2 linked regions of the Homo sapiens genome follow. The protein of the gene in region 2 binds, or shares a complex with, the protein of the main gene of each other region. Each region holds a gene or a part of one and is shown on either strand. Other genes may lie near its edges. The genes, in order: GCC2 and RAB6A. A codon is read from its position in the direction of its gene.

The links.
Region 1: the proteins of RAB6A (region 2) and GCC2 are in contact, whole or in part, in a crystal structure (PDB 3BBP), measured with the Homo sapiens proteins. Residues at the interface, in NP_942599.1 of Homo sapiens: Lys15, Ile46 (codon at 7,165), Gly47 (codon at 7,162), Ile48 (codon at 7,159), Trp67 (codon at 4,975), Arg74 (codon at 4,954), Phe75 (codon at 4,951), Ser77 (codon at 4,945), Leu78 (codon at 4,942), Ser81 (codon at 4,933), Tyr82 (codon at 4,930), Asp85 (codon at 4,921); in NP_852118.2 of Homo sapiens: Thr1585, Ile1588, Leu1589, Glu1591, Gln1592, Leu1595, Leu1596, Glu1599, Arg1602.

The regions. Positions count from the first base shown.
Region 1 is NC_000002.12:108,443,481-108,454,395, reverse strand, and holds the start of GCC2 (GRIP and coiled-coil domain-containing protein 2), read right to left. Parts: upstream 5,191-10,915; 5' UTR 5,122-5,190; coding exon 5,116-5,121; coding exon of another isoform or gene 5,107-5,115; intron 4,764-5,106; coding exon 4,707-4,763; intron 3,369-4,706; coding exon 3,284-3,368; intron 1,998-3,283; coding exon 1,930-1,997; intron 1-1,929. UniProt on the Homo sapiens protein: Golgin which probably tethers transport vesicles to the trans-Golgi network (TGN) and regulates vesicular transport between the endosomes and the Golgi.
Region 2 is NC_000011.10:73,713,729-73,724,421, forward strand, and holds part of RAB6A (ras-related protein Rab-6A), read right to left. Parts: intron 7,172-10,693; coding exon 7,118-7,171; intron 5,163-7,117; coding exon of another isoform or gene 5,057-5,162; intron 4,991-5,056; coding exon 4,885-4,990; intron 2,635-4,884; coding exon 2,523-2,634; intron 1-2,522. UniProt on the Homo sapiens protein: The small GTPases Rab are key regulators of intracellular membrane trafficking, from the formation of transport vesicles to their fusion with membranes.

The sequences.
Region 1 (10,915 bases), on a different chromosome or scaffold from region 2:
CATATGGATTTAAAGACCCCTTGTAATAACTCTCTGGGAGTCCCTCAGTAGTTCACTGCTCACAAGTGGGGAGCCACTGATGAGAAAATAAGATAATATATAACCAGGCTGGGCGCAGTGGCTCACGCCCGTAAACCCAGCACTTCGGGAGGACGAGGCAGGTGGATCACGAGGTCAGGAGATCGAGACCATCCTGGCTAACGTGGTGAAACCCTGTTTCTACTAAAAATACAAAAAATTAGCCAGGCATGGTGGCGGGTGCCTGTAGTCCCAGCTACTTGGGAGGCTGAGGCAGGAGAATGGCGTCAACCCAGGAGGCGGAGCTTGCGGTGAGCCGAGATTGTGCCACTGCACTCCAGCCTGGGCGACAAGGCGAGACTCTGTCTCAAAATAAATAAATAAATAAAAATAAATAAATATATAACCAACGGATATTATGCAAAAGCAGTGAAAACAGTATTTCAGAGCTCTGAGATGTAAAAGAAACTTTACAGAAGCTTGGCCTAAGGCGGGCAATGAAAGTGAGGGAATGAAAAAGCATTTGTTAGCATTAAGGGAGTGGAAATAAGAATAAGCAACTCAGATTTTTTGTGTTTTTTTTTTTTTTTTTAAAAACGGAGTCTTGCTGTGTTGCCCAGGCTGGAGTACAGTGGCTCAATCTCAACTCATTGCAACTTCTGCCTCCTGGGTTCAAGCAATCCTCGTGCCTCAGCCTCCTGAGTAGTTGGGATTTCAGGTGTGGGCAATCACGCCCAGCTAAATGTTGTATTTTTAGTACAGACAGGGTTTCACCATGCTGGCCAGGCTGATCTCAAACTCCTGACCTCAAGTGATCCTCCCACCTTGGCCTCCCAAAGTGCTGGGATTACAGGTGTGAGCCACTGCATTTGGCCTGCAACTCAGGTTTTTAAACGGGGAATAAAAACAATATTTTGTTATCTGGCAGTATTATATAAGACTAAAAAGAGAAAGAGAACCCAGTGAGGTTTTTATTGAAATAGGTTAAGTATTTGATGTGTTTAACATAAAGCCATAGAAATAGAGAGAAAAAAGATAAACTGGAACAATATCTTAAAGCTATAATAGGTCTCTGGTGACTGACACATATAGAGAATAAAGGAAACAGAGAAGTTAAAGTGTCTCTAAAGTCAAAAGGTATAAAAAACTGTGGTGCCACTGGTCTAACCAAGGGAAGCAATTTGGTTGAGTTTGATGAGATAAGTGAAATGTGTGAGAGGGAAACACAACTGTGAGATCTGGGTCAGTAGACATGTCCAGGGATATGGATCTATCTATAGATTATATACTGTACACCTAAAATCACTTAAGTCCTGAGCATGGCCAGGTTTTCAGGGGGCTGGGGAAGAGCAGAGAATGAAGTAACAACCATAATTAGAAAATATGGGCTGGGCGTGGTGGCTCACGCCTGTAATCCCAGCACTTTGGGAGGCTGAGGCGGGCGGATCGTGAGGTCAAGAGAGCAAGACCATCTTGGCCAACATGGTGAAATCCCGTCTCTACTTAAAATACAAAAATTAACTGGGTGTGGTGGCGGGCGCCTGTAGTCCCAGCTATTTGGAAGGCTGAGGCAGGAGAACTGCTTGAACTCGGGAGGCAGAGGTTACAGTGAGCCAAGATCACACCACTGCACTTCAGCCTGGTGACAGAGTGAGACTCCATCTCAAAAAAAAAAAAAAAAAAAAAGAAAGAAAAAAGAAAATACGTGGGAAGAGAGTAGAATAATAATTTCAGAACAGAAAGAGACCCAGAGGTCATTAACCCCCTCTTTTTACAGTGAATCAGATAGGTAAAAACAACCAAGGCAGAGAGGAAGTAGAACAGAAACAGAAAGCCAGATAGCCTCTAGCAGACTGACAATCCTCAGGGAAATTTTATTTCTCTTTAGACATTTCCCAACGTAATAATTACCTTAATAATATCACCAGTTCCTTCAGTAACAGGTTTTGATCTGAGTTCTTCAATTTCTTTCTCCAATTCTAAACAATTAAAAAATAAAGGACTCCGGTTCAGAAATAAAGAACATAATTACTGGGAAACTGATAAGTACATTCTCACAAAACCCCCCATAAATCTGCAAATTAGAATATATTTAAGCAGAATAGTATGATTAATCTCTGCACTCATCACTATACTTCAGCATTACATGGCCAATTTTGTTTCCTCCCAACCTGTACTCACTTCCTCCTTCACTGCTTTTCTTATCCATCTGATAATTTTCAAGCATACCCCAGACATCATATTATTTCACCTGTAAGTACATCTTACTGTATAACCTTAAAGCAACAATCACATATTAAGAATAAACGTTATCGAGAACAGCCTGGCCAACATGGTGAAACCTCGTCTCTACTAAAAATACAAAAATTAGCCAGGCATGGTGGTGGGTGCCTGCAGTCCCAGTTACTCGGGAGGCTGAGGCAGGAGAATCGCTTGAACCCGGGAAGGGGAGGTTGCAGTAAGCCGAGATTGCGCCACTGCACTCCAGCCTGGCCAAGAAGAGCGAGACTCCGTCTTGAAAAAAAAAAAAAAAAAAGAGAGAGAGAGAGAAAAGAAACGTTAATCTAAGTGTTTAATTAGCAAATGCCTAGATCTCAGGCCTAGAACTTCTTTCCAAATAAATTATTCTCTTCATTGCAAGGTGATCCAAACTCCCAAGACATACTTTTATCTTTTCTAATAGAAAATAAGTCTTAGCTTTTAGGCTAAGCAGTTAATATTTATAAGTCACTGGAAATTCAAGAGCTCATGTACATATACTAAAAAAAAAAGGTGCTAAGATCTTTTTCCTTCTGGAATAAAAAGAAAACTGAATAGGGAATCAATCAACTTCAGCAGGTAAACATACTTCAATATCTGTAAATGGAAGTCTTTTATTATTTTAATTGAGGAAGCTTTCCATCTCTTTGGGCTTATCTTCTGTCTCTAACATTTCAACTGACTTCTCTTGAAAAAACACTTTACTCAGAACTCAGAAGAATCTAAAGTCTACATGAAGGAAAAACACACTTAACTTACACAAACTTTAAAAATCCTCCTCCCTGACTTTAACAACTCAAAAGTCACTGTGGTTTAGAGATGTGGGAATAATTTAGAAATCAGAGGTAAATTTTTAGAATGTTAAATAACAGATTCTACTACACTAAGGTGTACTTGGAATCACTGGAAAACAAACAAAAACAAGCCAATGCATTATTTTAAAAACTACCATTTTAAACCACGATTAAAGAGACTGTGATCAAGATGAGTATTTTCAACCCAATACCTGTACACCTTGATTTAGCTTTCTGTATTAGCATCATCTGTTTCTTGGCAAACTTGATGAGGTCTTCTTTGGGCAATGTTTCCAGCTGAAAGATGTGGTCATGTTACCAACTTGTTATAACTCATGTTTCTAGTATACCACAAAAAAGAAACAATGTCTGCTAGAAAACAAAAACATTCTACAGAATAAATCTTTATGCCAACCGCATACTTTGTTCCACATTTTTTTTTTGAGACAGAGTCTCGCTCTATTGCCCAGGCCGGAGTGCATGACACGATCTTGGCTCACTTGTAACCTCTGCCTCCCAAGTTCAAGCAATTCTCCTGTCTCAGCCTCCCAAATAGCTGGGATCATAGGCGCCCGCTACCACGTCCGGCTAATTTTTGTATTTTTAGTAGAGACGGGGTTTCACCATGTTGGCCAGGCTGGTCTCAAACTCCTGACCGCAGGTGATCTGCCCGCCTCGGCCTCCCAAAGTGTTGGGATTACAGGCGTGACCCACCGCGCCCGGCCACATTTTTTAAAATCAGCAAATGCAACGTCAATTCTGTAATTGCTATGCAACTACTAAAAATTAGTTATGCAACTACTATGAAACGTAAAAACCAGGCCATATCCTCTTATAGCTAATGTTACAGGTTGACATTGCTAGCTTTTGATTTAATTGTAAAATCAGTAGGTTGGAGCTAATGCTACTTAAAATTCCTTGGAGCTGTAAAATTATTTCATTCTATTCAAGGCTGCAAGTCTTTGGTCACAAGAAAATTTACGCATAATTACAGCAGCAAGATGAACCGGGTAACATTCAGGCTTTAATTAAAAAATTGAGCTTTACCACTTGAGAAAATTGCTTAAGCCTGTGGTCTCAGGTTTCTCATCTGTAAAAGGAGGGTAACAACAGTACCTATCTCATGGTTATCATGAAGCTTAAACGAAGGAACTGAGTGGTTAGGCAAGCGCCAGAAATTTAGCATGCACACAATAAACCTTAGCAATAAACCACTATCATTTAGAATGATTGAATGTTAAACATTGTACAGGGCCATAAAACTGGACTAATTAAACTCTTTGGCAATGTAGAAACTGGAGCCCACAGATCAGAATCCCTTGATTCCTACCCTATGTCACTGCTCCTTCCACTACACCACTATATAAACCTTCTTAGACTGCTTTATGTTCGAAAAATAGCAGGATCTCCCAGCAGTGCTAACCAGGAGCAGGAAGCAAACAAAAAGTCTTTCTATATCGGGGTGGGCGGGGGAGAAACAGGAAATGGGCGATTGCGCACACTAAAATTGAGATCCCTTGGAGCAAGGCTATTAAAAAAAAAAAAATCAGCGCCCCCCCCTTCCCCATGCCAAAGTTTTCCAATTCATCACCCTTCCACTCTTCAGGAAGCCCGCTATTCAAGTATTCTCTTCACCTTAGATTTCCCGGTCCCAGGGGTAGCTGGTGAAGCCACCCCATCTTGAACAAGATCCTGCAAAACAAAATCAAACCCAGGTGTCAGAAGAACTCTTTTCCTAATTCCACACGGAACGCGTAGAACCCTTACAGGGAAAAACCTTCTATGGAATCAAGTGGTGGAAAGCCTCGTGAGACAGAGAATGAGGGCGGACGGAGGCGGTCGCTGTGGCAATTCGTACACAAACGGGCTCTACGGGGCAGGTAACCCCCAGGGATAGAGTTTACGAAAGATGGGGAGGCGACAGCAGCGCGGGCTTCGGGACACCAAGAGGGAGACTACCGCGCCCTCCCATCGGGCCCACTCCCACATCCCAAATCGCGGCGCGGAAGGCTTGATGGGAGGCAGTGGGCCCGACCTGAGTTACCTCCATCTCCGCCAGCCCGCCGCCGGCCCGCAACCAGCCGCCGCCACCGCTGCACTTCTGTTTGCGCCAGCCTCTGACGTAGGCTCTACTGCAGGTCAAAGGTCGCGCTCTCCGGGCGGCCCGCCCCCCACGTCTCCATAGCTACAGCTCGGCAGCACTTCCGCTTCCGTGTCTGCGTCCGGGAGAAGGTTCCCCGTACGGCGCTAAGGGCGGAGTCCGTCTAGACGTTCTACCTGGGGCTCGACCCCTGGGCCTGCAGGTCACGGAGTAGGTGTGGGTCCCGCCACTGCCGGTTATTGGCATGGGAAGGCGGGCCGATTACCCCTTGGGGCCTCGGGCCTCGGTTTCCACGTCTGTAAAATCTTGTGAGAGTGAGGAACATTGGATTGCAGGACAGGTCTCTCAGTCCTCCAAAGGTGTCCGCTAGCCTGCGAGTGCCTGCGGGACCCACAGCTGGTTCCGGGGGGCTCCTTAGGCATTTGTGGCCAGCATGGTGCCCGGGAGCTCCGTGACTCACAGGTCAGGGATGCGGTAGAGGGCTTCCCTGAGGAGGCATTTCTTGACTCTGGAGGCTGTGAGGAGGTCCCTGGACAGCTCTGCCCTGCAGCCGCCCGGTACTGATGGTGATGTGGTGGAGGCAAGATAGTCGGCCAGGGAACTGGGCAGCCGTGGGAGGAGACTCTGTAGAGTAGGGGGCCCGAGGCCACCCTTTCCCGAAGGGCACGCCAGAGAATCTGTGGTCGAATCCCAGAGCTGCTGCTGTGTCCTGATTGGCGGTCCAGTGCTCTGAGAGCCTTTCTGTTAACTGCTGAAGTGGTTTGCTGCGCTTTCACCTTCCCATTAATGTTTTCCATACACTCCCATAACTAAGGTAACCTGAAGATAACCTAGTTTCCTGTAGTTTAAATGGTCAAAAGGTTGAAGAGGCAGCACACAGTATGTATCGAGTAAATGGTAGCTGATTATTACTAGGTAAAAGAAGTGTTATAAACGAGAAAGAACAGCTATTGTGGACATCTACTCTTTGTCTTTGACAGTGTGTATCACCTATGGTGTTTGTAGGATTGGTTCAGGGGTGGTGTGTGACCTAAGATGTACAGTCTCCACGTACAGTAACACACGTGTGTGTGTACACGTGTGTGTGTACACGTGTGTGTGTGCACGTGTGTGTGTGCACGTGTGCGCGCACGTGTGTGTGCACGTGTGTGTACACACATATATGCACACACATGTATACACACACACACACACAATCCCCAAGTATACATTGTTATTAATGGTCCAGATTAATGCCATTCAAAGTAGTTCCCCAAGTTAAGAGCAACTTACGGTAGACTCCTATTTCAATTAATAACTTGAAAAAATCACTTGCAATAAAATAGCAGGTTAACTAGATACTACACACATTCCAATCCTGTAAAAGTTTCTCAGAGAAACACTGTTAGATATAGTTACATTCCAGGAGTTTGGCTACATCAATAGCTACAGAAGAGTTGATGTTCTCACAGTAGAACTCTCTTTTTCTCATACTTGAAATAAAAAAGAACCTTTCTTTTCTTCCTTTGATCTTTCTTCCCTCGCCAGCCCTCCATTGCACTTGGCTGGGTAACAGGGTCCATGAGTTGCAGCTACAGGTAGGGCAGCGTCTCCTGGGAATCCCCAGGGAGATGAGGGTCAGCACACCCCTAAGCTCCAGGTCATCAGCGGCCTCCTCACACAGCTCGAGCTCACCCCCATCTGCCTTCCTGGTTGTCATTGGACAGGAATTTTATTTTCTGAGATGATGGAGGCAGGTATAATGTTCTTGACCATCGGATACCTTCTGTTGTTGTTCCTCTTAAGGAAGAAATCATTTATTTCTTCCTTCACTAGTTATAGTAAGTGCTGAAATCTTCTAAATATATTTATCATCTTTCATACTTTAAAGAATGAATATTTATGAATTGATTGTGAGTACTCTGAGATCTTCTGATATTCATAAACCTATAGGAAAGATCTGCTTTATATTTCACATTCTCTGGACTGCAGATAAGTTCACATTTTAAAGATGTATATTACCTTAATGAGCAGAACTATGACCTGTTTAACGAATATGTTTCTTTCCAATTGTAAAAGTAACACAGGTTCATTGTAGAACACCTGGAAAATATAGGAAAATTCCGAAAAGAAAATAAAAATCACCTTGAATCATTTATGGAAATAGAAAATAGGAACAATGTTAATAACAATGTCAATAATATGTGCTGTGCTGGTCACATTGTATAGTAGATGGAGACTGCTGTATGTTAACCAGCACTACTGAAACATAATATAATTTGAGCAAGTTGCAGGGTCTTGCCTAAGTAAAAATAGCTTCTTTACCAGTTTGGAATGGTGCCAACATGCCATTATCTCCTGAAGAGCCACATTAAAAGGCACCTGTTGCTTAGGGATGGTCCGGAGAGACACCTGATCTTTTTTTGTTAGTTCGCTAGCAAGTTTTATTTCAGAAAAATCAATCCTTGGCTCTTCAGTGCTTTGATTATAACTCTTAAGGTAAGCATGGAAAAACTACATTTACATTGTATTTTTTTTTCTTTCTTCTCCTTTTTTTTTTTTTTTTTTTTTCAGACAGGTCTTGCTTTGTCATCCAGGCTGGAGTGCAGTGGCATGATCTTGGCTCACTGCAACCTCTGCCTCTTGGGTTCAAGTGATTCTCCCGCCTCAGCCTCCCGAGTAGCGGGGACTACAGGCAAGTGCCACCACATCTGGATAATTTTTGTATTTTTAGTAGAGACAAGGTTTCACCATCTTGGCCAGGCTGGTCTTGAACTCCTGACCTCAAGTGATCCACCTGCCTCAGCCTCCCAAAGTGCTAGGATTATAGGCATGAGCCACCACACCCGGCCCATTTATATTGTATTGATGTAGCTAAAAGATAAGTCATATGTTTTAATTTACTTTTAATATACTTACAAGTGAATGTAGTTCTGACCTAACCTATTGCCTCTTATTATACAGGATAAGATAGTGAGCCAGAATGTAAGTTACTTTCTAAGGTTCATAGTATGATTAGGGGTAGAGCCAGTACCAGAACTGAGGATTGTTTTTTTTTTTTTGAGACGGAGTTTCGCTCTTGTTGCCCAGGCTGGAGTGCAATGGCACAATCTCGGGTCACCACAACCTCCGCCTCCCAAGTTCTAGTGATTCTCCTGCCTCACCCTCCTGAGTAGCTGGGATTACAGGCATGCATCACCATGCCCAGCTAATTTTTGTATTTTTAGTAGAGACGGGGTTTCACCATGTTGGTCAGGCTGGTCTCGAACTCCCGACCTTAGGTGATCCGCCTCCCTCGGCCTCCCAAAATGCTGGGATTACAGGTGTGAGCCACCACGCCCGGCCAGAACAGAGGATTCTTGACCCTCAGTGCAATGCTTTCTCCTCCATGACACAAAAATATTATCTATTTGGTATTATACTGTAAAGCCACATCAACATGCTGTAGCTAGCCAGCATTACTTTTTAATTTATAAAGTAAATTTTTATAACAATATTGAAAACAAATGTTCATGAGTCTTAGATGTTCATACTGGTGATGCAGGATTTTTTTGCTCCTTAGCTCAGCTAATCTGGGTTCTTTTCTCATGACCAGGAAGAATTAGGCATGCAGCCACATTGAAGGATGAGGAGAGTGGAATTTATTAAGTGAAAAGAAAGCTCTCAGCAAAGAGAGGGGTCCTGAGAGCAGGTTGTCACCTCCCAAATTGAATACCAGGGCCACCACACATGAGTTGAAGAGGCCAGGCTCCTCCCCTGCATAAGGCGCAAATTCCTGGTGGCTCCACCCTATTCCCCCAGTGCATGTGGGCCTCCAGTCCACTGTGGGCATGCCCAGGCAAGACCCCTGTGCAGGTTCCCTTATCTGCACAAAACATCTGGTGTAAACCCTTGTGTGGCTGGTCAGAGATTCTCTGGGGACCCTTCCCTATCTGCTTAGGCATTTGGCTATCTCCTGCTTCTATCACTGGTGAATTTGGTTTCTGCTTTAAGTCAGGGTAAACTTCTGTGCCTTTAGTTTATTAGATTATATAATTATTTTATTTGTTTGCCAGGGCTTCTGTAACAGTATCACAGACTAGTTGGCTTACACAACAGAAATGTATTGTCTCACAGTCCTGGAGGCTGGAAGTTCAGAGGTGTTGGCAGTGCTGGTTCCTCAGAGCTGTGAGGAAAGGATCTGTTTCTGGCCTCACTCCTTGGCTCACAGATGGCTGTCTTCCCTTTGTTTCTCTTATCATCATTTTCCTTCTATGCATGTTTTTGTGGCCAAATTTCACATTTTGTAAGGACTGCAGTTACATTGGATCAGGGTATACGTTAATGACCTCATTTTAAGTTGATTACCTTTGTAAAGACCCTATTTCCAAAAGGTCACATTTTGTGGGACTGCGATTTAGGACTTTAAAATATGAATTTGGTGGATGGGGCACAATTCAGCCCATAGCAGTTATTTTAAAAAGGCACATATAACTGATTTTCAGCCTGTGAGATTCAGGAAAATCATGTCTCTAAGGAAACAAGGGAGGAAACAGAGATAATGAAGCCGAAGAGCAGTGGTGATAATGGAACCGACCCAATAGTCCCATAGATAGTATTGTTGATAAACATAGAAATGGACCTTCTGGTCTTAAAGCTTGAAACTTACATTTGTTTTATCTGAGTTCCTTCCTCAGGAAACTACCTTTAGGCCTCTCAAAAAAGTATCAAAAAACTGAAAGTTACAGATCACCACATCCTGACAATGAGATGGTGGACCCCTCATTCATTATGATTGCTTCCTTGCCCCTCCCTAGTTCCTATTTCCTTACACATTGTTACATTTCTTCCCTGTTGTATACACTCCTAATTTTAGTCAGTCAGAGAAATGGATTTGAGAATGAGCTCCCATCTCCTCAGCTGCAGCACCCAATTAAAATCTTCTTCCTTGGCAATACTCATCATCTCAGTGATTGGCTTTCCGTGTGGTGAGCGGCAGGACATAGACTTTCCCCTGGTGTTTCTGTAACAGATTGTGGTTCCCTGATTGGGAATGTGTTGCTCTTGGCTTGGCTGCTAGGGCCAGGAGTCTCAGAAGACCACCTAAATGGCTGCCCATCCAATTTTGACTAGAGGTGAGTTTCCATCTCTCTCTGGCCCTGATACTGCCAGCCCCAACTGCGTTCCTGACTTCCTGGGACGAACTGCCTTTGAAATTTCACATCTACATCTAGATAGGTGAGTGTCCTTTGTGGGCCCAGAAAGCAGGATCTGCTCCTCCTAATTTGGGAAATTTTAAGCTGAATTTCCATTTTGTAGGTTGAACAAGGCCAACTGACTGAGAGGGAGAAGCATTCTGACTGTTTCAGTTTGGACATTTTTGGGGCTTCTTTGTAATTGTGTGTTTTGTGTCTGGGCAAGTGAGTGTCTTTTGTGGATACCAGACAATGGGATCAGTTCCTCTTAATTTGAGAATTTTTTTTTTTTTTAAGACAGAGTCTTGCTGTGTTGCCTAGGCTGGAGTTCAGTGGCATGATCTCGGCTCACTGCAAGCTCCGCCTCTCCCGAGTTCATGCCATTCTCCTGCCTCAGCCTCCTGAGTAGCTGGGGCTACAGGCGCCAGCCACAACACCCGGCTAATTTTTTGTATTTTTGGTAGAGACAGGGTTTCACCATGTTAGCCAGGATGGTCTCGATCTCCTGACCTCGTGATCCGCCTGCCTTGGCCTCCCAAAGTGCTGGGATTACAGGCATGATCCACTGCGCCTGGCCAATTTGGGAAATT
Region 2 (10,693 bases):
TTAAAAAATTAAGTCTTTTACCCATTTGAAAATCATTTTAGTGGAACGAACAAGCTGTAATTCTTTTAAATGTGAACAGTTGAGAGATGATAGTCTGGCAAAGATTACCAAGAAAGATGGTAATTTCAACGCAACTGACAAATGTTACCTTAAAGAAAAATTATTATAAATATAATTTCAGATAGGGCTTGTTGGCTCATGCCTGCAATCCCAACACTTTGGGAAGCCGAGGCGGGTGGATCACCTGAGGTCAGGAGTTCGAGACCAGCCTGGCCAACATGGGAAAACTCCGTCACTACTAAAAAATACAAAAATTAGCCAGATGTGGTGGCAAGCTCTTGTAATTCCAGCTACTCGGGAGGCTGAGGCAGGAGAATCACTTAAGCCTGGGAGACTGAGGTTGCAGTTAGCCAAGATTGTGCCATTGTACTCCAGCCTAAGCAACAAGAGCAGAACTCCATCTCAAAAAAAAAAAAAAAAAATATATATATATATATATATACACACATATAATTTGACAAGTTTCTACCATTTGTGCACACAACTGAAATATTAAGCAATAAAAAAATCCTTATAAGCATCCTCCTCAGATAACTCTGGCTATAAAGGGAAACAATTCAGATATACAATTTTTCTATTTAAAAATGAAGAGGCCGGGCGCGGTGACTCACGCCTGTAATCCCAGCACTTTGGAAGGCCAAGGCAGGCGGATCACAAGGTCAGGAGTTTGAGACCAGCCTGGCCAACATAGTGAAACCTCGTCTCTACTAAAAATACAAAAAAATGAGCCGGGCATGGTGGCAGGCATCAGTAATCCCAGCTACTCGGGAGGCTGAGGCAGGAGAATTGCTTGAGCCTGGGAGGCAGAGGTTGCAGTGAGCCGAGATCGCGCCATGGCACTCCAACCCAGGTGACAATGCGAGACTCCAACTCAAAAATAAATAAATAAATAAAATAAAGGTACTGGCAGGGCGCGGTGGCTCACGCCTGGCACTTTGGGAGGCTGAGGCGGGTGGATCACGAGGTCAGGAGTTCAAGATCAGCCTGGCCAACATGGTGAAACCCCGTCTCTACTAAAAATACAAAAATTTGCAGGACATGGTGGCAGGCGCCTGTAATCCCAGCTACTCAGGAGGCTGAGGCAGAAGAATCGCTTGAACCCAGGTGGTGGAGGTTGTAATGAGCTGAGATCACACCACTGCATTCCAGCCTGGGCGACGGAATGAGACTCCATCCCAAAAAAAGAAAAGTACCTACAAAGTCTCTAGAGTGAGGATAAATAAAATAGTGAAAATTTCCTTCATAGCAGTTCATGTCCAAAACATATTTTTATAAAGAAAAGATGCAATCACTTTGAATTTACTTTTAAATTAAGAAAGACTTTTTTGCAACTGTACTACCAATTCTTTTTTTTTTGAGACGGAGTCTCACTCTGTTGCCCAGGCTGGAGTGCAATGGCACAATTTCAGCTCACTGCAACCTCCGCTCCCCTGGTTCAAGCAGTTCTCCTGCCTCAGCCTCCCGAGTAGCTGGGATTACAGGTGCATGCCACAGCGCCCAGCTAATTTTGTATTTTTAGTAGAGACGGGATTTCACCATCTTGGCCAGGCTGGTCTTGAACTCCTGACCTCGTGTTCCACCGTCCTTGGCCTCCCAAAGTGCTGGGATTACAGTTGTGAGCCACCGCACCCGGCCTGTACTACCAATTCTAACTGAGGTGCCATGTGCAGAAATGGGCTTCATATCTCCACAAGTCTTTTAACACTGGCTTTCTTTGCAACACTTGAATTAATATCACAAGTTCATTACCCGAATTTCAATATCCATCTCATGAATAAACAAATAAATAGTAAAAGCTCTTACTATTAAGTAGTATGGTCAAAACTATTTAAAGCAGAAAGAATATGCAGTAAATCGCTTAAGAATGCTGAAAGCAAATATTCAAGCCATGGGTCCTACAGTGAATGTTAATATATTTTGCATCCTGTGACTTGAATATCGCTTTGCTCATTTGACTAAGGTATCACAATCAAGCTATTCAGTGCAACTACACAGTCTGGCTCAGCCACACAATTAAAAACCAACAACCAAAAAACAAAAATCCACACCACTGAATTATAATGAATGTTTTATAAGAAGACTACTAAGAAAAGAGTGTGCATTTAATCATTATGAACAATTTTTAAAGATAAGGTTTTTCCAAAATGGCTTGCTCTTTAACAAAACACTTTTCATACTTATGAGATCTAAAAAAAGCAAAATATTTACTGGCTTCATGTCTAAACAAACTTGCACAAGAGTTATTTACACATGGGCTTAAACAAAATAAAATTCATTTCCCTTAAGGACTGGCTGTTTAATATTTACATTTATATTTGAGGTTCCCATGCTAAAGAAAAGCAGGGGAGGACGTAAACTTAAGGATTAAGCATGTCTCCTTTCAAAACAATTTCTCAGTGAACAAAAATAAAAGGCTGCATCACAGAAATCAAACATTACACACATATAAAATAACTCCATACCTCTTGTCAGCAAGATCTGTTTTATTTCCTACTAGCATGATGATAACATCACTTCCTCTTTCTGTTCTGACATCATCAATCCACTTTGTAGTTTGCTGGAATGAGTTAACATCTAGTATAGGAGGGTAGACAGAGAGATTAGTGTTGCTGAAAAATGCCTCCCCAGGTGGTGGGCACCTCCCTCCAAAAAAGCCCTGGAAGTTGGAAGGGGGCTGGCACATTAGTACCCCACTTTTAATGTGCCTGCAACATAACTCCATTTTATCTGATTACAACTGTCAGCAATTTAAACAAATTACAAGAATAAAATCTTCAAGGTTCCTTTTAGAGTAGTTTAAAAATTTTTTGAACATGATCAAATGAGTACAATGTAGTATTTAATTGAAAAAAAAACAACTTTTTGAAATATAAGGACAGCTATGGCAGATAATATGGTGTCACATTGCCACAATGCTTTTTTGATCACTTACACATACCAAACATGACAAAGAAAGCATTTTCCAAAGTATGTCAGCCAGTAAGTCCCAACACATCCAGAAAATCTGTAAAGCCTTTCAATAGCTTTCAACACCACTGTTTGCACTGCTTCCTCAGTTTGTGATCACTTTAACCTAAAGTTTATTTGTTTAATGCATCAGAAACACTTGTAACAAAATTTATCTTTTCTAGTGTTGGATTCTAAGTAGAGTACTTCAACACTTCTTACAGCAGCTAAAGAAAACAACGTACTAATATTTGAATCACATTTGTGGATTTAAAAAAAAATACACCAGGTTTCACTTGCTGTGGTTAAAGTAAGCACAAACATTTTAAAGCTACAAAACGTGTCAATGCACAATATGAACATACCTCTTTTTTTTAAACAAACAGCAACCCAAAGTAAAGGTGCAAAGGAAGAAAGACTGCATATAGCACCTATCTCAAAAAAAGTCCTTGAATGCAATCTTCTAATTTTGCCAGCACAATTATTCGTTATTAGATAACAATTCCTAATTGAGGAGATATGCAAGAATGCATAGTAACAGTATTACTAGTCCAAATGAATAGTTCCTTTGTCTATTTAAGATTTTTTTTAGCCCAAGATACTACATCTGTGTAGTGTGGTACACATTTTTTAAAAATTTAAAAAGAAAGCCCCAGATACTGGGCTGGGCACAATGGTTCATGCCTGTAACCCTAGCACTTTAGTTTTTGTTGTTGTTGTTGTAGTTGAGACAGAGTTTTGTTCTTGTTGCCCAGGCTGGAGTGCAATGGCACGGTCTTGGCTCACTGCAACCTCCGCCTCCCAGGTTCAAGAGGTTTTCCTGCCTCAGTCTCTCAAGTAGCTGGGATTACAGGCATGCACCACCACACCTGGCTAATTTTGCATTTTTAGTAGAGATGGAGTTTCATCACGTTGGTCAGGCTGGTCTCAAACTCCTGACCTCAGGTGATCCGCCTGCCTTGGCCACCCAAAATATGGGGATTTCCGGCGTGAGCCACTGTGCCCGGCCTAAACCTAGCACTTTAGAAGGCTGAGGCAGGAGGATCACTTGAACCCAGGAGTTCAAGACCCTGGTTTTCCTATAAGTTATGAACCACTACATGTAATAATGTTTAATATTGCCTAATATATGTCATAAACCAATTTACAAAGGCAATTTCAATCAGAAAGCATTTTCTTGTCAGTCACCAATGCTTCATGGAAAATTTACAATCACTTAAAAGGCCACAGGCATTATTCAATCTTTAGAAAAAAGAAAAAGACTACTAGTTGTTTCACCTCCTATTTAAAATTTTTTTCTTGGAGAGAAATGAAAGTGTAATTTGTTAGCAACAAAGTAAATAAATCAGTCACAGAACCAAAATATGATTCAAATAAAAAAGATTAATAGAAAACTGTACATTATGTTTTCTCTGTCTTCCTCTACAGAGAGAGAATGGCTGGAAGGGGAAAGCAGAGAAAAGCTGGCTAGCAGAAGCTTGTAATAGCCTCAATAGAAAGCTTGGAGGATTTGGAAAACCTGGCAAGAGACTTAAATGCAGATCATTTTATTTTAGAGAAATCTGAGATCAAGGAAACATTCCTCCAACTATAATTATGGTATGGTTTACGAATAACAGGATACTAAGAAACCCTTGAAGAGGATTCATAGTTGGACCCAAAAGAAAATTTCTGGGGCAAAAAACCTGGCACAGTTACATATAAAGCATATTGGTATAAACACCAAAGCAAATATTTCTGACCTGGCTGGTATGTAATTTACTATGATAAAACTTATTTTTACATGCCAGTAAGGAAAACAAGCACAAGACAAGAACATGCATGCAGCTAAGCTAAAGGTTGAAAGAAGATTAGAAATGCATAATTCCCTCCACTCACTTGTGATATCATAAACAACAACTGCCACAGTGGAGTCACGAATGTAGCTAGGAATCAAGCTCCTGAACCGCTCTTGACCTGCTGTGTCCCATAATTGCAATCGTACCTAACAACAAAATCAGTCAAACAAGCAAGAAAAATAAGAAAGGTCAACCCGTTGCAATATACCTACTTGTGATATCGTAAACTACTACAGCTGCAGCAGAATCACGGATGTAACTGGGAATGAGGCTACGGAAACGTTCCTGACCCGCAGTATCCCACAGCTGAAGCCTGATCTGTGAGATGGGAAAAAATAAATAAAAAAAAAAAAACCAAACTAATACTAAAAAGAAAAAAGAAACAATGTTTTTTGTAAAAGGGAGAGGGTGGGAAGGAAGTAGAAAGAAGACTCATGCAAGAGGTTGCAGGGAGTGAGGAATGAAAATAACACAAAACTCCTTTTTCAAAAGGGAGAAATATTAAAAATTTGCATACTCCAAACATAAATGACTGGAAAATGCCACTGGGAAAAATTTCACAGAATCAGAAATATGGCTTCCCTTTTTCCCTACCTAAAACCTGTTTGAATCCCTATGCCTTTCAAGTGGCAAAAAGTAGACTGTTGATGGTTAAATAGAGAAAAAAACAAAACAAAACAAAAAAACCTAAGGTAAATGTCAATGAGCAGCCTAAGCTATCAGAGTAAAGGAATTAATGCTTCTTTGAAAGCTTCTCTCAAGCTAAAATGTGTCTCTTTCCTATTGGGTCTAGAATACTTTCAAACCTGTTTTTTAACTACCGTGCTTGTATTTCTCCCATACATTTTCCCCAGAACATGCGAGTGTGTGCGCGCACGCATGCACGCGTGTGTGTGTATAATGTAACAAAAAGGAGGAAGATCTTTTTGCAGCCCTACATAAAAATGTCTTTACGTACTATCCATATCTATATTACAGGAAGAAAAGCCTGAAAACAAGTATCAAGTTCTTGCATCATGATAAAGTCGTTTCCAAGCTTTCAAATTTTTTTTTTTTTTTTTAGACAGACTCTCATTCTTGTCGCTCAGGCTGAAGTGCAGTGGTGTGATCTCGGCTCACTGCAACCTCTGCCTCCCGGGTTCAAACGATTCTCCTGCCTCAGCCTCCCGAGTAGCTGGGATTACAGGCGCCCGCCACCACGCCCAGCTAATTTTTGTATTTTTAGAAAAGATGGGGTTTCGCCATGTTGGCCAGGCTGGTCTTCAACTCCTGACCTCAGGTGATCTGTCCATCCTGGCCTCCCAAAGTGCTGGGATTACAGGCGTGAGCCACCACACCTGGCCGCTTTCAAATTTTAAGAAATGACATGCTATATATCAAAACATAAAAGAGAATATTCAGGAAAAAAAAAACACCTAAGAAATAACACTGGAAATTAAATAATGTTTTTGGGTGCAGGTCTCAAAGTACTGCATTTAAGATATTCACTGTTTAGGTGACAAGTATCTCTTCAAGGGGTAGTGGGCTAGAATACAGATTTTACACTGTATTTAAAGAAAACATTCCAAAGGATGAAAGACAAAAATCCAACAAATAAATACACATTACTTTTTTTTTTTTTTTTTGCAACGGAGTTTCGCTCTTGTTGCCCAGGCTAGAGTGCAATGGCGCAATCTCAGCTCACTGCAACCTCTGCATCCTGGATTCAAGCGATTCTCCTGCCTCAGCCTCCCAAGTAGCTGGGATTATAGGCGCCCGCCACCACGCCTGGCTAATTTTTTGTATTTTTAATAGAGATGGGGTTTCATCATGTTGGCCAAGCTGGTCTCAAACTCCTGACCTCAGATGATCCACCTGCCTCAGCCTCCCAAAGTGCTGGGATTACAGGTGTGAGCCACCGCACCCTGCCCACATAACTTCTTTTTTGTCAGTCACTTTGATACGCATCCTATCCTGACAAAAAAAATCTTGAAGTTCACAAATTGAAATCTTTTTGAATGCCTCAAGGGTGGCATTTAGAAGGTCTTTAGCAGGTTTAATTTCTTCATAAAAATTCTCCTTTAATTCTCTGTAAAGCTCTTTGTTTTCATTTTTCCAAATCAAGATGACTGCCAAGTACTACTCACTCGGTAATAAGAGTTTTTCTCAACAACTGTAAACTATCTTTGGTAACTTTGCTAAGTACTTCTTATGGTGACAATCATTGATAACTTTGATTGCAGTTTTCTAACCTGGAATGTTGCAGAAAATTGCACACTGAAAATATTACTCACTGTTCGATCCTCCAAGTACATAGTTTTTGATAAAAAGTCAATGCCAATTGTTGCCTGTAAAACAAAACAAAGAAGTTAACAAATAATAAGTTTAATGGTGGCCAGCAGTTTAGGATTCAAATGGGATTCATGATTGTGGAAGAAATAATGAATAAACAAATCAATACAACATAGTCAATTAAGGACAATTAAGGACAAACAAAATTTCCAGTGATAATGATTTTCATGTATTCAGCACTTGCTTCATATCAGAGATTGTTTTAAGCCTTTTACATGATCATCTCTAATCTTTATACATTCCTGCCAGGTAGCTTATTCTCATCCCTACTTTTCTCATTTTACAAATAACAAGACAATGGCAACTTTGGTTTAAATATTTGTATTTGAACTTTAGTTTGAGTATCTGATTGTTCTCCACTCAGAATGGTAAGTATCTGCCCCAAGAGCAGTTTTATAAAATACTGTTGATATATTGTCAACTGTCCTAATGCCATAGACAGCCAGAGACTCACAAACATCATAACTTTCCATAAGAGACATGATTTTTCCAATATAAAATAAAAGTCATTAGGTAAGGAAAACAAGTTTTCCTCTGTACCACACAATGATAGCTTCCTTCTGTGGTGAAAACAAATGTAAAGTTCTATTGCCTGGCTGCTGTTTTCCCTATCAAGAGAAAATGGTGAAATAATAAGAGAATAGAAAGAAGGCAGACTACAAAAAAGAAAGGAAAAAAAGTATACAAGTTAAAAAACAGTCCAGTATTAATTAGGGGAGATAAATAAAAAGAATGGAAGAAAGACAGACTCCAGAAAGAGGATGTTGATATGGACTCTATTTTAGAAGTTTTACCACCTCATTAATGTTTGTGTGCACATATACTATGTATATATGTGCGTGTACATACATACTTTTTCCCTAAATATCTTTGTGCCATATTCCTTAAAACAGAAACTGAGTCTGTGCATTTTAAAATATGAGTCACTAAGAATTTTAAGTTCCTAAAAAACAATCAAAAACTAGATCAGAAAAGTGGTCCATCAGTTGGGGATTTTATTTCTGTTAGCAGAAAAATAGAATTTTGTGTGTGTCATAGTTGAGTTCTCACGAGATCTGATGGTTTTATAAAAGGATTTCCCCTCTCTTTGCTCTGTGCTTCTCCTTGTTGCTGCCATGTGAAGAAGGACATGTTTGCTTCCCCTTCTGCCATGATTGTAAGTTTCCTGAGGCCTCCCCAGCCATGTGGAACTTGAGTCTATTAAACCTCTTTCCTTTATAAATTACCCAGTCTTGGGTTATCTCTTTATTAGCAGCATGAGAACAAACTAATACATGTGTCTCCTTTAATTTCTCCCAGCAGTGTTTTGTATAGTCTTATGCTGTTTGTTAAATTTGTTCCTAAGTATTTTATTCTTTTCTGATGCTTCCGTAAATAAAATTCAAATATATATGTGTGTGTGTATATATATATATATATATATATATATATATATATATATTTTTTTTTTTTTTTTTTTTTTTTGAGACAGTCTCACACTCTTGCCCAAGCTGGTATATAGGGGTGTGATTTTGTCTCAGTGCAGCCTCAACCTCCTGGCTCAAGCAATCCTCTCGAGTAGCTGGGACTACAGGTGCATGCCACCATGCCCCACTAATTTCTGTATTTTTTTATAGAGACAGGGTTTTGCCATGTTGTCCAGGCTAGTCTGGAACCCCTAGGTTCAAGAGATCTTCCCCACTTGGCCTTCCAACACGCTGGGACTATAGGCATGAGCCACTACACCCTGCCTAAAGATAATATCTTTATATGAAAAATCAATGCAATGTTGATAAGTCTTTACATGTTTTTACATATATTCAAGAATGAAAGCTACAGTAAATTACATAAATTGATTATCTACTAAGTGCCGATTTATACACATTGCCCCATTTAGTTCTCATTTATTCGTTCATCGATTATTTATTTATTTATTTATTTAGAGACAGAGTCTCGCTCAGTCGCCCAGGCTGGAGTGCAGTGGCGTGATCTCGGCTCACCGCAATTTCTGCCTCCTGGGTTCAAGCAATTTTAGTGCCTCAGCCTCTCAAGTAGCTGGGATTACAGGCATTCACCACCAAGCCCAGCTACTTTTTGTATTTTTAGTAGAGATGGGGTTTTGTCATGTTGGACAGGCTGGTCTCGAACTCCTGGCCTCAAGTGATTCCCCCCGACCTCGGCCTCCCAAAGTGCCAGGATTATAGGCATGAGCCAATGTGCCCAGCTTGCTCATCAAATATTTATTAAGCACGTACTTGCAAGTACTGTGTAAGGTACTAGAGTGATGAACAAACATGCAGTTAGTCTCTACCCAAATTGGACGGAACACATTTAAAAATCATGTACACCTGTCCACATTCATCAGGAATATTTATTGAACTCTATTCCTTCCAAATACTGGGGGGGAAAAAAAGAAAGATTTATTTTACTTATTTTATTTTATTTTATTTATTTATTTTGAGAGACAGAGTCTTGCTCTGTCACCCAGGCTGGAGTGCAGTGGGGTGATCTTGGCTCACTGCAACCTCCGCCTCCTAGGTTCAAGCAATTGTCCTGCCTCAGCTTCCCAAGCAGCTGAGACTACAGGTGTGCACCACCACACTCAGTTAATTTTTGTATTTTTTAGTAGAGACGGGGTTTCACTATATGTTGGCCAGGCTGGTCTCGAACTCCTGACCTCAAGTGATCTGCCCACCTCGGCCTCCCAAAGTGCTGGGATTACAGCCATGAGCCACTGCGCCTGGCCGAAAGAAATATTTATTGATTGCCTACTAGGCACCATCATTAGCAGCTGAGAATCCTGTGGTAAAAGAATAAAAAGCAGACAAGAATCTATGCCCTTGCAAAGGTTACAGTCTGCTAAGACAAACAATAAGCTAATTAAGTAAAATAGTATATTAGAGAGTAGTATGAGAGAAAAAAACCAGGAAAAGGACAATAAAAGATATTATGGTACGATGTCAATATTTTTAGATAAGATACTCAATAAAGGCTAAGAAAATGACTCTCACCACTCCTACCCACATATCTATATACTGTAAACCAGTACCCTGCATTTCAATATATAAGATTTTTTTTAGTTACATAAATAAAACACCACAAACTTTATGTATGTCAATTCCTGTACAGCAAATATTTCTAACAAATAGGTTTTTAAAGAAAAAATTGAACTGTTTCTCAAATTCCATATAAACGCTTATGCATTTCTCATTCACTTTGCCTTAATATGGGATTACTGCATATAGGCTGCAGAAAGTTCACACTCAAGAACAGCTATGTAAAGCATGTAAAACAACAGCAATTCAAAAGGTGACTCCAAAAGCAAAGAAAAAGATATCCCACTGAACACTTCATTTTCTCTTCCATGACAAAAACATTCACTTGAGAATATATTAGTTCGAACATCAAAGTACATTTGTTGATATACATAGGCAACATCACAAACTGACTAAAAGTAAATTTTATAGTATATAAGTCAAGAACAGTACTCTCTTCCTTCTCTGAAAATAGCAAATTGTGACTTACAAATTATGCAGCTA